Homo sapiens: one gene and its partners. The protein of the gene in region 1 interacts with the protein of each later gene in a pairwise test. Each region holds a gene or a part of one and is shown in the gene's direction. Other genes may lie near its edges.

The links. Proteins that work in one complex are often made in the same cells at the same time.
Region 2: the proteins of TSGA10 (region 1) and FBF1 interact in binary tests that used the Homo sapiens proteins (3 or more experiments, as listed by UniProt).
Region 3: the proteins of TSGA10 (region 1) and ZNF2 interact in binary tests that used the Homo sapiens proteins (3 or more experiments, as listed by UniProt).
Region 4: the proteins of TSGA10 (region 1) and HDAC4 interact in binary tests that used the Homo sapiens proteins (3 or more experiments, as listed by UniProt).

The regions. Positions count from the first base shown.
Region 1 is NC_000002.12:99,071,427-99,074,993, reverse strand, and holds part of TSGA10 (testis-specific gene 10 protein), read left to right. Parts: intron 1-1,920; coding exon 1,921-1,976; intron 1,977-3,119; coding exon 3,120-3,288; intron 3,289-3,567. UniProt on the Homo sapiens protein: Plays a role in spermatogenesis. When overexpressed, prevents nuclear localization of HIF1A.
Region 2 is NC_000017.11:75,934,543-75,938,109, reverse strand, and holds part of FBF1 (fas-binding factor 1), read left to right. Parts: intron 1-516; coding exon 517-544; intron 545-2,436; coding exon 2,437-2,478; intron 2,479-3,567. UniProt on the Homo sapiens protein: Keratin-binding protein required for epithelial cell polarization. Involved in apical junction complex (AJC) assembly via its interaction with PARD3. Required for ciliogenesis.
Region 3 is NC_000002.12:95,172,242-95,175,808, forward strand, and holds part of ZNF2 (zinc finger protein 2), read left to right. Parts: intron 1-3,567. UniProt on the Homo sapiens protein: May be involved in transcriptional regulation.
Region 4 is NC_000002.12:239,051,521-239,055,087, reverse strand, and holds part of HDAC4 (histone deacetylase 4), read left to right. Parts: intron 1-254; coding exon 255-339; intron 340-1,486; coding exon 1,487-1,628; intron 1,629-1,951; coding exon 1,952-1,991; 3' UTR 1,992-3,567. UniProt on the Homo sapiens protein: Responsible for the deacetylation of lysine residues on the N-terminal part of the core histones (H2A, H2B, H3 and H4).

The DNA.
Region 1 (3,567 bases):
TATTTTAAGGTTAATCAAGAAAGGACTTTTTTTTTTTTTTGAGACGGAGTCTCTGTCACCCAGGTTGGAGTGCAGTGACACAATCTCAGCCCACTGCAACCCTCGCCACCCGAGTTCAAGTGATTCCCTGCCTCAGTCTCCTGAGTAGCTGGGATTATAGGCGCCCACCACTGCACCCGGCTAATTTTTGTATTTTCAGTAGAGATGGGGTTTCACCATGTTGGTCAGGCTGGTCTCAAACTCCTGACCTCGTGTTCCGCCTGCCTCACCCTCTCAAAGTGCTGGGATTACAGGCATAAGCCACCGCATTCGGCCTCAAGTAAAGACTTTCAAAAGCACTAGTTCAACTAGCTTTTCAGAATTTGTTTAGAAATGTATTAAATTATATTTCAAAAATGTGTAAACATTCCATTTTATGGAGTATTTTGTCTTTTAGTTTTTCCTTCGTTGGCTTGTCCTTCTTGAAGGGGTTTAACTTTTTTTTTAATGCATATTTTAACAACACACCAGTATCTATTACTGCCAGATGTGGAATCTGTACCATTCCATGAGAAAGCAGAATGGGAAACTGTAGCTAAAAATACCCTGGAGAAGAGCACATGAATAAAGGAAGATAGCACACACACACACACACACACACACGCAAATATGTGTAAAACTAACGCTAAAGAAATAGGAACGGCCGGGCGCAGTGGCTTACGCCTGTAATCCCAGCACTTTGGGAGGCCGAGGTGGGTGGATCACTTGAAGTCAGGAGTTTGAGACCAGCCTGGCCAACATAGTGAAACCCCGTCTCTACTAAGTATACAAAAAATTAGCTGGGCATGGTGGCGCATGCCTGTAGTCCCAGCTACTTGGGAGGCTGAGGCAGGAGAATCGCTTGAACCTGGGAGGCGGAGGTTGCAGTGAGCCGAGATCGCGCCCTCGCACTCCAGCCGGGGCATCAAGAGCAAAACTCCATCTCAAAAAAAAAAAAAAAAAAAAAAAAAAAAAGAAAAGAAACAGGAACAGAATTGGTTGGAAAATATAGGTTTGGGTTTTTAAAAATCTTTTTACTTAGTTACTTAAAATTTGAAAATTCAAATGGCAAGGTGAAATCTAGTTATTACTTAGTGAAATAACTTTCTTACTTTTTTAGGGCTAATGTTAGCTCTAAGTATCTGTTTATAGTTGGACTAGTTCAGGGTCAATGGAAGTTTTAAAAAGAGGTGTGGGAATGGTATTAAAGGCATTAAGATATTCAAACCCATTTCTGCCTTGACTGACTCCACTACTTCTACTCCCTCATCACGCCTTTGAAAAAGGAAAATATAGTTTATTTCTCTTACCTTTGCTCGAGGCCTAATGCTTACCTTCTTATTAGCTCTCACCTAAATATCAGTAGTATACTTCTATAAGTAATTGGATTGGAACAGCTTTTTGAAGATTTTGTTGCTGGCTAATATAAATAATACACTTAATCAAAATTATTCTTAAAAACTAAATTTAGGTATACATGATTGGCTTCTCTGGGTTTTATAACATAAAGAATGTGAGCAAGAGAACCAGTTCTAAATCCCAGTATAAAATGCCAATACTCCAATGCCAAACCATTGGTTTGCCTCCAAAAACAGGTGGTTATAGGGTTCTTGTATTGCTGGGTGACTGCATAAAATATCTTTTGACAAAGAATTTGATATACTGATCTCATAATTACACCTAAGTATAGCCTTTACTTTAATGAACATAATCTATTTTTACCCAGTGCAAATATTCACATTGATATACTAGGCTTTAAAGTGTGGAAAAGAATAGGACATACATGTTTTTAAAACCAAATGGAAACCTAAAGGGAAAGGGAAATTTTCTTTTTGTTCATTCAATTTTAACAGAAATAACAGCTTAAGATTTTTTTATTTAATACTTATATTATTTTTCAAGGAAAAGACCATTTCAGGCATGAAGAATATCATTGCTGAGATGGAACAGGCATCAAGGTAAATCAGTCGTGCAACAAATATATGAGCTCTTACTGGGGGGCCAAGTACCATGTTAGGTACAAAGATAGTAAGAAACAAGGGGCTTAATGATACGTGTAAGGTGCTAACTCTCTCATCAAAGGAGGCCTAAGTCTGTCTAAGGAACTAAAAGAGGGGATGGTGTTTGCCAAGTAAAATAAGGGGAAGGGAAGGGCATTTAAAGTAGAAAGAATAGCAAAGAACCACAGATCATGTTGACAAGCCTCTTGACCTACAAGTGGGTGAGTGTTGTTGAAACCTAGAGTGTAAGGGGAGAAGTGAAGGGAGGAGACTAAATAGGCAGGCAGAGGCTTGTGTAACAGACAAATGAGTATTGGTTATATCCTTTGGGCAATAAGAAATCATTAAAGAATTCTGAGGAGAATTTTGTGTTAGAAAGATACCTAAGCAGAAGAGGTGGTGATAAATTGGGGTTTAGGAGTTGTGGGACAGAAGGAGTGAAATGCTTTTGTATGAGGGAGAGACACCAGGAAAATGCCAAGTTTCTGGCCAGGGACAAATACTGAACATGAAGAAAGTATGAGGAGAAAAAATGATTTTACCTCTGAATTTGAAGAACCTTTGGGACCTTATTGTAGACATGTCTAGTAAGCAGTTAAATATAAGTCTGGAGTATAACAGAGGGTCTAAAACTGGAGATAATTATTTTGGAGTCATTGGATCTAGATGGGGTTGGGAACCATGGATATGAATAGAGTTTGTCTGAGAGAAGGGTTAGAGTGAGAATAATTGGGAGGCTAGGGCTTGAGCCCTGAAAAGCATTAATTTTTAAGTGGGCAGAGGAAGAGGAATCTGTAAAGGAGACTAAGCCATAACAGAAGTAGGATGAAAGCCTTCCTAATACTTGATGTAAGAAGTTTTGAAATATTTGGCAAATCATTGACTATTATGTATACTTTGTATCCTTTTCATAGCGAAATGATGGCAACATTGAGAAACTCTAATGCACTGTCTTTGCAGTATTTATTCCTATAAATTCAAACGTGTTTAAAATCTCTTCAAATGTTTTCATACTAACTGTCCATCTTCTGTCTTGTGAGAATTTGTTGCTCTGTTTCAGTAAAATGTCTCTTCTTATGTACTCTTTGATTTGTGGAATAGACAGTGTACTGAGGCCCTAATTGTGTGTGAACAAGACGTTTCCAGAATGCGTCGGCAATTGGATGAGACAAATGATGAGCTGGCCCAGATCGCCAGGGAAAGAGATATCTTGGCTCATGACAATGACAATCTCCAGGAACAGTTTGCTAAAGCTAAACAAGAAAACCAGGTACACTTGTTCCTAGAATCATTTTCTCCAAGAAAAAAAAATATGAATTTCTTGTGAGGAACAGCCCTCATTTTATTTTATAGAAGAGCTCAGACACTGGAACTAGCCTTTTCTTTTTTTTAAAAAATAACAAAATAGGCCACATAATTTTTAAATGGAATTCTCAGACACAAAGGGTTAAATATTAAAGAAAAGAGAGAACAGGGCTATATTTGTATTAAAGCTTAGTACTTCCTTGCTGAAGGATAAATATTTGAATAATCAAAAAATGAGAATAAA
Region 2 (3,567 bases), on another chromosome or scaffold:
CATGCCTCCCATCCTGCATCCCCAAAGATCTTGACTGCATGCAACACTCTGGGGGCTGGGCGGCAAGGACCAGGATGGAGACCCTGGAGAAGAGTGACAGGAGGTGGCATTGATACCAAACTTTCGACGACCAAGGTTTCTTCTGAGACTCTGAGTGTCCAGCTGGAAGCGTTTTTAAGTGTCTGTCACTGGTATTGAGGAGTCAGGGGCACGGAATAGAAGACATTTCCGGTCACATGACATCTCGGCTGGGAGGGTTTGCATGTCGTGTCTGGGAAAGGAGTGACCTGCCCGCCCATTGGCACCCATCGCTGGTTAGCAGGGCTGTTTCCACGCTCTGAATGAGTCCGTTCTCAGAAACTATAGGAACACATAAAGGACTTACATCTCTAAATGCCATTGGTGCTCTTGCCTCTGGTTACTTGGCAAAAGGCAACGCAATTCATTCTGCATTGCCAATTTCCACCTGTGTTCACTGTTTGGTTTTCTTGATGTGATTTGTTTTTCCCATTTTAGGCACCAAAAACCAAGAAAGGATGTAAAGGTGAGTGGAGAGATGGAACATTACTCTTAAGCCAAATATATATCTTTTTCCCCTTTGGTCCTGGAACAATGAGATGTGTTTATTTAAATGTTTTTGGGCCGGGCACGGTGGCTCACACCTGTAATCCCAGCGCTTTGGGAGGCCGAGGTGGGTGGATCATGAGGTCAGGAGATCGAGACCATCCTGGCTAACACGATGAAACCCCGTCTCTGCTAAAAATACAAAAAATTAGCCGGGCGTGGTGGCGGGTGCCTGTAGTCCCAGCTACTCGGGAGGCTGAGGCAGGAGAATGGTGTGAACACAGGAGGCGGAGCTTGCAGTGAGCCGAGATCTCACCACTGCACTCCAGCCTGGGCAACAGAGTGAGACTCCGTCTCAAAAAAAAAAAAAATGTTTTTGATCAGTCTTGCTGTTCTTCCCATTATTCCGTAGGCAGCCTTGGTCTTCCTTATGTTGCCTCACTGGTCCTCAGAGAAGTTCAGACGTAAATAAGATATGAGGTTTTGGAAAAAATCCTCCTCCTTGGGCTCTGTATCCAGAAATATGTGGTTGGGATTCAGGGTGGGAAAGCTGGTGTGGGGAAACGAATTCGATATTCATACTTAGGTTCCCCCACATGCCTCCATCAGAAAGTGGCCATTGATGAGGACATCCAGACCAGTTCTGGGGGGTCTTAGATGGAAGGGTACAAGGAGCCTACTTGTCTGAAAGTAGCCTCCATGTGCCTAGAAATCTTGGGCACTCTTCCCAGCGAGCTGCACTGGGCTGTGTTCAGGGTCTGGAAGACTGATCTTTGGCCAGTGTGTCATGGTAGGCAGGTAGAATATAGGTTCTGCTGAAAATCTGCACCATCATCCTTTCAGATAGTTGTGTTTTTTTGTTTTTTTTTTTAAGACGGAGTCTTGCTCTGTTGCCCGGGGTAGAGTGCAATGGCGTGATCTCAGGTCACTGCAACCTCTGCCTCCCAGTTTCAAGCAATTCTTCTGCCTCAGCCTCCCCAGTAATTGGGATTACAGGCATGTGTCACCATGCCCGGCTAATTTTTGTTTTGGTTTTGTTTGTTTGTTTGTTTTTGAGACGGCGTCTTGCTCTGTCACCCAGGCTGGAATGCAGTGGCGCGATCTCGGCTCACTGCAACCTCTGCCTCCCAGGTTCAAGCAATTCTCCTGCCTCATCCTCTCCAGTAGCTGGGATTACAAGCATGCGCCACCAGGCCCAGCTAATTTTGGGGGGGGTCTTTTTGTTGTTTTTTGAGACGGCGTATCGCTCTGTCGCCCAGGCTGGAGTGCAGTGGTGCGATCTCGGCTCACTACAAACTCTGCCACCCGGGTTCAAGTGATTCTTCTGCCTCAGCCTCCCGAGTACCTGGGACTACAGGCACATGCCACCACACCTGGCTAATTTTTTGTATTTTTAGTAGAGACAGGGTTTCACTGTGTTAGCCAGGCTGGTCTCGAACTCCTGACTTCAGGTGATCCACCCGCCTTGGCCTCCCAAAGTGCTGGGATTGCAGGTGTGAGCCACCGCGCCCAGCCATTTTTTTTGTATTTTTAGTAAAGACAGGGTTTTGCCATGTTGGTCAGGCTGGTCTCGAACTCCTGACTTCAGGTGATCCACCCGCCTCGGCCTCCCAAAGTGCTGGGATTGCAGGTGTGAGCCACTGCGCCCAGCCTGAGATAGTTATTTAAATTTCTGCCTCGGGGTATTTCAACAAGGCTTTGTGACTTGTTGCCAGAAACTTGTAAAACATCTCGTGGCCAATGAAAGGAGAGCTAAGCCTAAGTCCCAACATCTGAAAGGTCTGACGCCTTCTGGCGAGTCTCAAGCCTTGATGTTTATAAGGGCCACTCTTCTTTCCTCCTGAAGTCATGACAGTCCCTTTTCTGTTCCAGGCTCCATTGATGATTTTCTTGGTGACCTTCTAGGGGATGATAGTAAGTGTGCCTTGCCCAGAATCCCCTAATTTGGGCTGCTGCTGTTGCTTTTTTTTCTTACTATGTTGCCCAGGCTGGTCCCAAGCTTCTGGACTGAAATGATCCTCCCGCCTCCTAAACCAAAGTGCTGGGATTACAGGCATAAGCCACTACACCCGGCCTTTTTTAAAAATTGAGATATATGCGCCTGTAATCCCAGCACTCTGGGAGGAGGAGGAGGGCCAATCACAAGGTCAGGAGTTCAAGACCAGCCTGACCAACATGGCGAAACCCCATCTCTACTAAAAATACAAAAAAAAATTAGCTGGGCATAGTGGCGGGCGCCTGTAATCCCACCTACTTGGAAAGCTGAGGCAGGAGAATCACTTGAACCCAGGAGGCGGAGGTTGCAGTGAGCCAACGTTGCACCACTGCGCTCCAGCCTGTGCGACAGAGCGAGACTCCGTCTCAAAAAAAAAAAAAAAATGAGATGTAATTTATATAGCATAAAGTCCACTCCTGTAAAGTGTACAACTCAGTGGTTTTTGAATATTCAAAAGTTGTACAACCATCAACATTACCTAATTCCGGAACATTTTCCATCACCCCTTAAAGAAACCCCATGCCCATTAGTAGTCAATTTCATTCTCTCCTCCCTCCAACCTTAGGCAAGCACTTATTATTTACTCTCTGTCTCTATGGATTTGCCTATTGTGGACACTTTACATAAAATGGAATCACACAGCATCTTACCTTTTTTTTTTTTTTTTTTTGAGACAGAGTTTCACTCTTGTTGCCCAGGCTGGAGTGCAATGGCGCAATCTCGGCTCACCGCAACCTCCACCTCCCAGGTTCAAGCAATTCTCCTGCCTCAGCCTCCTGAGTAGCTGGGATTACAGGCGCTCGCCACCACGCCCAGCTAATTTTGTATTTTTAGTAGAGATGGGGGTTTCTCCACGTTGGTCAGTCTGGTCTCGAACTCCCAACCTCAGGTGATCCACCCATCTTGGCCTCCCAAAGTGCTGGGATTACAGGTATTGAGCCACCGCGCCCGGCCAGCATCTTACCTTTACATCTAGCTTTTTTTTTTTTTTTTTGAGACAGAGTCTC
Region 3 (3,567 bases), 3.9 Mb from region 1:
ACGACATTGTTTGCACAAATAGTTTAGGCATAGTAGACCACCGTTATCTCTTAGGGAACTGGGGAACCCTCTCAAAATCGAAGTTTCCAGCTGCCAGCGAAGGGCCAGCATGCAAGCAGAACTTTCTAGGAATAGCAGTCTCAGGTCTGCTGTGACTTTTCTGCACACCACCCTTCTTTCCTTCCTGTTATTTTTTTCTGTACACCAAAATAAGGACTTACTCTTGTTGAAAAAAATATATGAAGAATGGTAAGAAAATAAAAATAACTTATAACTCACCACTCAAATTTCATTTACATTTTATTATGTGTTTTTCCTTTTTCTATACATAATGTGCATGTACAAATATGTAATTTTAAAAGTGTGCATTCTTCAAGTGTTTTGAATTTCTTTGTGGTTTTTTTTTTTTTTTTTAGATGGAGTCTCACTCTGTCACCCAGGCTGGAGTGCAGTGGCGTGAGCTCAGCTCACTGCAACCTCTGCCTTCTGGGTTCAAGCAATTCTCCTGCCTCAGCCTCCAGGGTAGCTGGCACTACAGCCACGTGCCATCATGCCTGGCTAATTTTTGTATTTTTAGTAGAGACGGGATTTCACCATGTTGGCCAAGCTGGTCTTGAACTCCTAACCTCAAGTGATCCACACGCCTCGGTCTCCCAAAGTGCTGGGATTACAGGTGTGAGCCACTGCACCTGGCCGTTCTTTGTGGTTTTTTTTCAGTTGTTGATTTTTTTTTTTTTTGTAAGAAACAAAGCATTACAGATAAAGCTGAAGTATCCTGGGTATCCTTCCCCAGTCTTATTTCCCTTTCTTCTCAGATATGTACACATTTGCTGCTTATTGTCCCATGTGTTAATAGATTTTTGTAGGTATTATTTACCTGTTTTTAAATTTTATGTAAATATTATACAGTAAGTCATTCTATAACTTATTTTTTGCCCAGTAATTATGTTTTTGTAATTTATCTCTGTTAACATGAGATAATGTATAATATTCATATATAATGTATAATACACATATTCATATATAATATTCATATATGAGATAATGTATATATATTCACAAATCCTTTATCTGATTAATGGACATTGAAGTTGTTTGCAGTTTATCACTAGTGATCTTCTCCCCAGTGACTTGTAATGCCACCTCAGTCATACATCAGGCTTCCCTAATGTTTGGATATGTTTTGGGATTTTCTGTTCTAGTCTATTGGTCTGTAATTGATGTGGCTATCTTTTCATGAAAATAAATCATGGTAGCATGAAAGTTAAAACCTCCCAGGCAGACATGGTTTCAAGTTCTACCTCAGATTCTTACAAAGCCTTAATTTCCTAATCTGTAAAATAGTGCCTACCTTATTGATTTATGAGGATGGAGTTAAATTAGCCTTATAAAAAGCACTTAGCACAGTACCTGGCAAATAGAAAATACTCAATAATGCTAGTTGTTATTAAGATGATGGGTTTTTTTGTTTTGGTTTGGTTTGTTTGAGATGGAGTCTTGCTCTGTCGCCAGGCTGGAGTGCAGTGGCACGATCTTGGCTCACTGCAACCTCCGCCTCCCAGGGTCAACCAATTCTCCTGCCTCAGCCTCCCAAGTAGCTGGGACTAAAGGCACACGCCACCACGCCCAGCTAATTTTTTTGTATTGTTAGTAGAGACTGGGTTTCACCATTTTGGCCAGGATGGTCTCCATCTCTTGACCTCATGATCCGCATGTCTTGGCCTCCCAAAGTGCTGGGATTACAGGCGTGAGCCACCGTGCCAGGCCAAGATGATGTTTAATAGTGTTCCATTATATGTATGGACTGGGCCATAAATTATTTAACCAAGTCTCCAGATGTTTAAGGTATTTCAAATTTTTGCTGCCTTATTGAAAAGATTAAATGAGATAATACATATAAAGTGCTTAGGAAGTGCCCTGGAACATAGCTGTCAATAAGGGTTAGTGTTAATGATGAGTCATAAAAAGCTGTGTATATATCATATATCATTACTTATTTCCTAGTATAAATTCCTAGGAGAGAATTGCTGGGTCAAACAGTATGTTTCAAGGCCCTTGCTATAAGTCACAGTGATTTTTTAAAGCACGGATGTGATGACATGTCCACACCCAAATCCTTCAGTAATCTCCATGCCTGTGGAGAAAGGGCCATGCAAAGCTCTCCTCGATGAAACTGGCCTCTGCCTACCTCTTTTCCCTCATCTTCCCCACAGCACTGCTCACAGCCTAGACTTCTACCATTCTAAGCTAATTTTTGTTGTTAATCCTTTCCATGTAAAGACCTGCCTCCTTCTTTTTGAAAAACTTGAGGTTTTTTTCTCAAGATTTAGAATGTTCTAGCTCCTCCCACAAATGAAAACTTAGCTTAGATCCCACTCCTGTCAAGAAAGCTGCAGAGTTCCTCCTTCCATCCCTCCCTGCTGGGTTAGGTGAGCCTCTGAGGTGCTCTCATGGATTGCTGTGCATATCGCTTTGCTGCTCTTAATGCATCCTGGAGTGAAATATTATCTCATTTACTTGTTTGTTCTCTGTGCTAAGCTATAGCTTCTGGAGGACAAAGACAGTGTCTGACAGTTTTTCTGTGCTTGATGTAAGTAGTTGGTGCTGAATAAATGCTGGTTGAATAGAAGGATGAATGAATGAGTCACAAGAAGCAGTGACCATATCCCCTTGACTGTTGGAGAATGGTCAGTGCACCGCAAATATGCCTTTTCCTCCTCCTCACCAGGACCACACCATCTCCCAGCCACCATAAATCCCAGAAATGTGGGATTTAATGCTCTTGTTTTATTTTTATATTTTTTTATTTTTATAGAGACAGAGGTCTTGCTATGTTGCCCAGGCTGGTCTTGAGAACTCCTGGCCTCAAGTGATCCTTCCACCTCGGCTTCCCAAAGTGCTGGGATTACAGACATGTGCCACCGTGCCTGGTCTGTTGTTTTAATTAGACTCTTGATTGTGAAAAACTGAGACTTAGCTAATCCCAGTAAAGGGAATTAGTGATAAGATCTTGCACAGAGCCCAAGAGAGTTAGAGTATTATGGCAATCTATGAATAAATAAGGATGGTTTGCATGGAAATTGGAGCCCATGGGTGGTGCTAGGCGAGGTGAGGGCTTCCCCAGGAATTCTTAGGTCTTTGCGTCAGTGTTTCACCGCTGATGGGACTGCGCTGGGCTTCCCCCTGCCTGCCTCTGGTCCCGTGGTCTATTATGACCTTTTCTCTACCTTGTACCTCCCATGTGCCCATGGGTTCTGCTGCTGGTAACTTTGGTTCCCCGATCCTTGTGGCTGCTTCAGGACGTCCTTTCATGATATCCTTTCAGCTCGTCACCCACTTGTCCTGACATTTCTTAGTTCACATTCCCAAGGAAGGATGTCATCTTTTCAAGCCAGATCACATCTCAATCTACTAGTCATGTGTGCATTACCCACCTGTGGCCTAATCAGTGTGGCTCCGGGAATAAGACACAGGGTCACATGGTACAAAACCTGGCTGCCCAAGGGATGCTCCTTTAGCAAGGGCTATGAGTGGGGTATTTTTCCTTTGAAGAGACTGGATTGTCTT
Region 4 (3,567 bases), about 140 Mb from region 1:
GACTGTCTTTCTTCCTGCTACTTGTAGGAACCCACAAATATCTTATAGCGTCCTAAAAAAAAATCCACTTTTACAAAAAAATTATAAATACCACGGCACATTTGGCTTTTTAAAGTTATTTTTTTCTACTCTGTGGGCAAATGCACCCCACAAGGGTCTCTGTGCTCAGGAAACAGTTGCAGTCTCGGAACACCCGTCTAACGCACGTGTGGATTATATTGGCAGTCTTTATATTCTTATGCATTTTCTTCCAGCTTGATCCTCTCCCAGAAAAGGTTTTACAGCAAAGACCCAATGCAAACGCTGTCCGTTCCATGGAGAAAGTCATGGAGATCCACAGTAAGTTGCCTGGCTGGGTGCTCACAGGGGACACGCCCCTGGGGGTGGGACTGCACCACACCCCATCCCTGTCCCCCTATACCCCCAGCTCTTCTCCATCCCACTGCCGGCTGCTTCCCCAGGCCTGCAGCAGAAGGCCTTGCTTTCAGCTGCATTTCTTGAGCTGGTAGAGACTCACATTTAACCCCGACTGGATTTCCCCCGGCCTGCTGGGATGGTTCCATCAGCCCAATTTGTAAGTCTAGAGAATCAAGGCCCAGACAGTCTCAGTGTGGAGTCACTTGCTCTAGGTCCCCAGCTAGCAGCGGGGGCCATGGCTGTGAGCCTGTACCCTGGGGACTCCGGCCTCTTCCCTGGACCAGAGAAGCCCACGTCCTGACCTCAAAGAACCCTTGGCCCTGCAGAGAGGCAGGGTGTAGGCCCTCTGAGTTCTGGCACCGACCCTCAAGCAGCAGGTCCTGGGTGCAAGGGCGTGGCACGCAGCCTATCTCAGAGGCGCCTCCCACACCCTGTCATTGTCGCAAGCCCAGCTTGTCTTGCCTTTGAGATGACCCAGATGGTTGAGACTGTCCACAGAAGCAGGGGTAGTCCAGAGCTCAGCTCCCCGTTTCCCTGTGTGAGGGAGTCCTGGCTTCAGAGCCCTGAAGCTGACCCTGGGCCAGGCCCAGCCCTCCACATACACCCCCTTGCGCCTGACGCAGTACCCCTCCACCCCCAGCCTCTGTGAGGGCCCAGGCAGAAGACCCCTCAGCCCCAGCGACAATCCCCCAGCTCACCTGCTCCCAGAGATAGGAAGGCTCAACCCAGCAGGCTGGCAGCCCCCTGCCCTGGCCACCCAGGGCAGAAAGGGGCCCGTGAGCGTGGAAAGCCAGGCCTACAGGAGCCTCCCTCTGCAGTCCTAGGTGGGCCTGCTCCTGGAGGGACTCGAGCCACTCACAATGGGGAAACATTTCCAGAGATTTTTTGGGTCTTTGTGAGTTTGTAGCCATGCAGTCTTCTGCTTCGTGTCTCTTCAAAGACGGGTGCTTTTAAAATCATAAGGGATCAATCTGGTTTGAGGCTCAGGGTCCCGCAGGACCTTCCCGGGCCTCAGTGCATCCTGCTAAGTTGTAGTCACTGAGCGACTTTCCTCACCCCACCACCCCAGGCAAGTACTGGCGCTGCCTGCAGCGCACAACCTCCACAGCGGGGCGTTCTCTGATCGAGGCTCAGACTTGCGAGAACGAAGAAGCCGAGACGGTCACCGCCATGGCCTCGCTGTCCGTGGGCGTGAAGCCCGCCGAAAAGAGGTGAGCACCTGCCCTGCCGCCCGCCTGCAGGCTCACCCAGCCCCACTGTGCCCACTGACACACTATTCAGGGTCAGAACCTTTATGGCACATGCCCTGCCCAACAGACTAGAGACAGGCCAGTGTGGCCCCCTCCTTCCAGTGCCAAAGCCCCTTAGAGACGCATGAGGAGCATTAGATCCTGAACAGATGGACCCGGGGCTGCCAGGCCAGGGCTAGGCTGGCGGGTGGGGCAGCACACAGCCTTTAACCCACGTTCTGTTCTCTCCTCTCTGTGGTGCACCTGCCCCACGCCCCCATCTCCTTCTCTTGCGGGATCCACAGACCAGATGAGGAGCCCATGGAAGAGGAGCCGCCCCTGTAGCACTCCCTCGAAGCTGCTGTTCTCTTGTCTGTCTGTCTCTGTCTTGAAGCTCAGCCAAGAAACTTTCCCGTGTCACGCCTGCGTCCCACCGTGGGGCTCTCTTGGAGCACCCAGGGACACCCAGCGTGCAACAGCCACGGGAAGCCTTTCTGCCGCCCAGGCCCACAGGTCTCGAGACGCACATGCACGCCTGGGCGTGGCAGCCTCACAGGGAACACGGGACAGACGCCGGCGACGCGCAGACACACGGACACGCGGAAGCCAAGCACACTCTGGCGGGTCCCGCAAGGGACGCCGTGGAAGAAAGGAGCCTGTGGCAACAGGCGGCCGAGCTGCCGAATTCAGTTGACACGAGGCACAGAAAACAAATATCAAAGATCTAATAATACAAAACAAACTTGATTAAAACTGGTGCTTAAAGTTTATTACCCACAACTCCACAGTCTCTGTGTAAACCACTCGACTCATCTTGTAGCTTATTTTTTTTTAAAGAGGACGTTTTCTACGGCTGTGGCCCGCCTCTGTGAACCATAGCGGTGTGCGGCGGGGGGTCTGCACCCGGGTGGGGGACAGAGGGACCTTTAAAGAAAACAAAACTGGACAGAAACAGGAATGTGAGCTGGGGGAGCTGGCTTGAGTTTCTCAAAAGCCATCGGAAGATGCGAGTTTGTGCCTTTTTTTTTATTGCTCTGGTGGATTTTTGTGGCTGGGTTTTCTGAAGTCTGAGGAACAATGCCTTAAGAAAAAACAAACAGCAGGAATCGGTGGGACAGTTTCCTGTGGCCAGCCGAGCCTGGCAGTGCTGGCACCGCGAGCTGGCCTGACGCCTCAAGCACGGGCACCAGCCGTCATCTCCGGGGCCAGGGGCTGCAGCCCGGCGGTCCCTGTTTTGCTTTATTGCTGTTTAAGAAAAATGGAGGTAGTTCCAAAAAAGTGGCAAATCCCGTTGGAGGTTTTGAAGTCCAACAAATTTTAAACGAATCCAAAGTGTTCTCACACGTCACATACGATTGAGCATCTCCATCTGGTCGTGAAGCATGTGGTAGGCACACTTGCAGTGTTACGATCGGAATGCTTTTTATTAAAAGCAAGTAGCATGAAGTATTGCTTAAATTTTAGGTATAAATAAATATATATATGTATAATATATATTCCAATGTATTCCAAGCTAAGAAACTTACTTGATTCTTATGAAATCTTGATAAAATATTTATAATGCATTTATAGAAAAAGTATATATATATATATAAAATGAATGCAGATTGCGAAGGTCCCTGCAAATGGATGGCTTGTGAATTTGCTCTCAAGGTGCTTATGGAAAGGGATCCTGATTGATTGAAATTCATGTTTTCTCAAGCTCCAGATTGGCTAGATTTCAGATCGCCAACACATTCGCCACTGGGCAACTACCCTACAAGTTTGTACTTTCATTTTAATTATTTTCTAACAGAACCGCTCCCGTCTCCAAGCCTTCATGCACATATGTACCTAATGAGTTTTTATAGCAAAGAATATAAATTTGCTGTTGATTTTTGTATGAATTTTTTCACAAAAAGATCCTGAATAAGCATTGTTT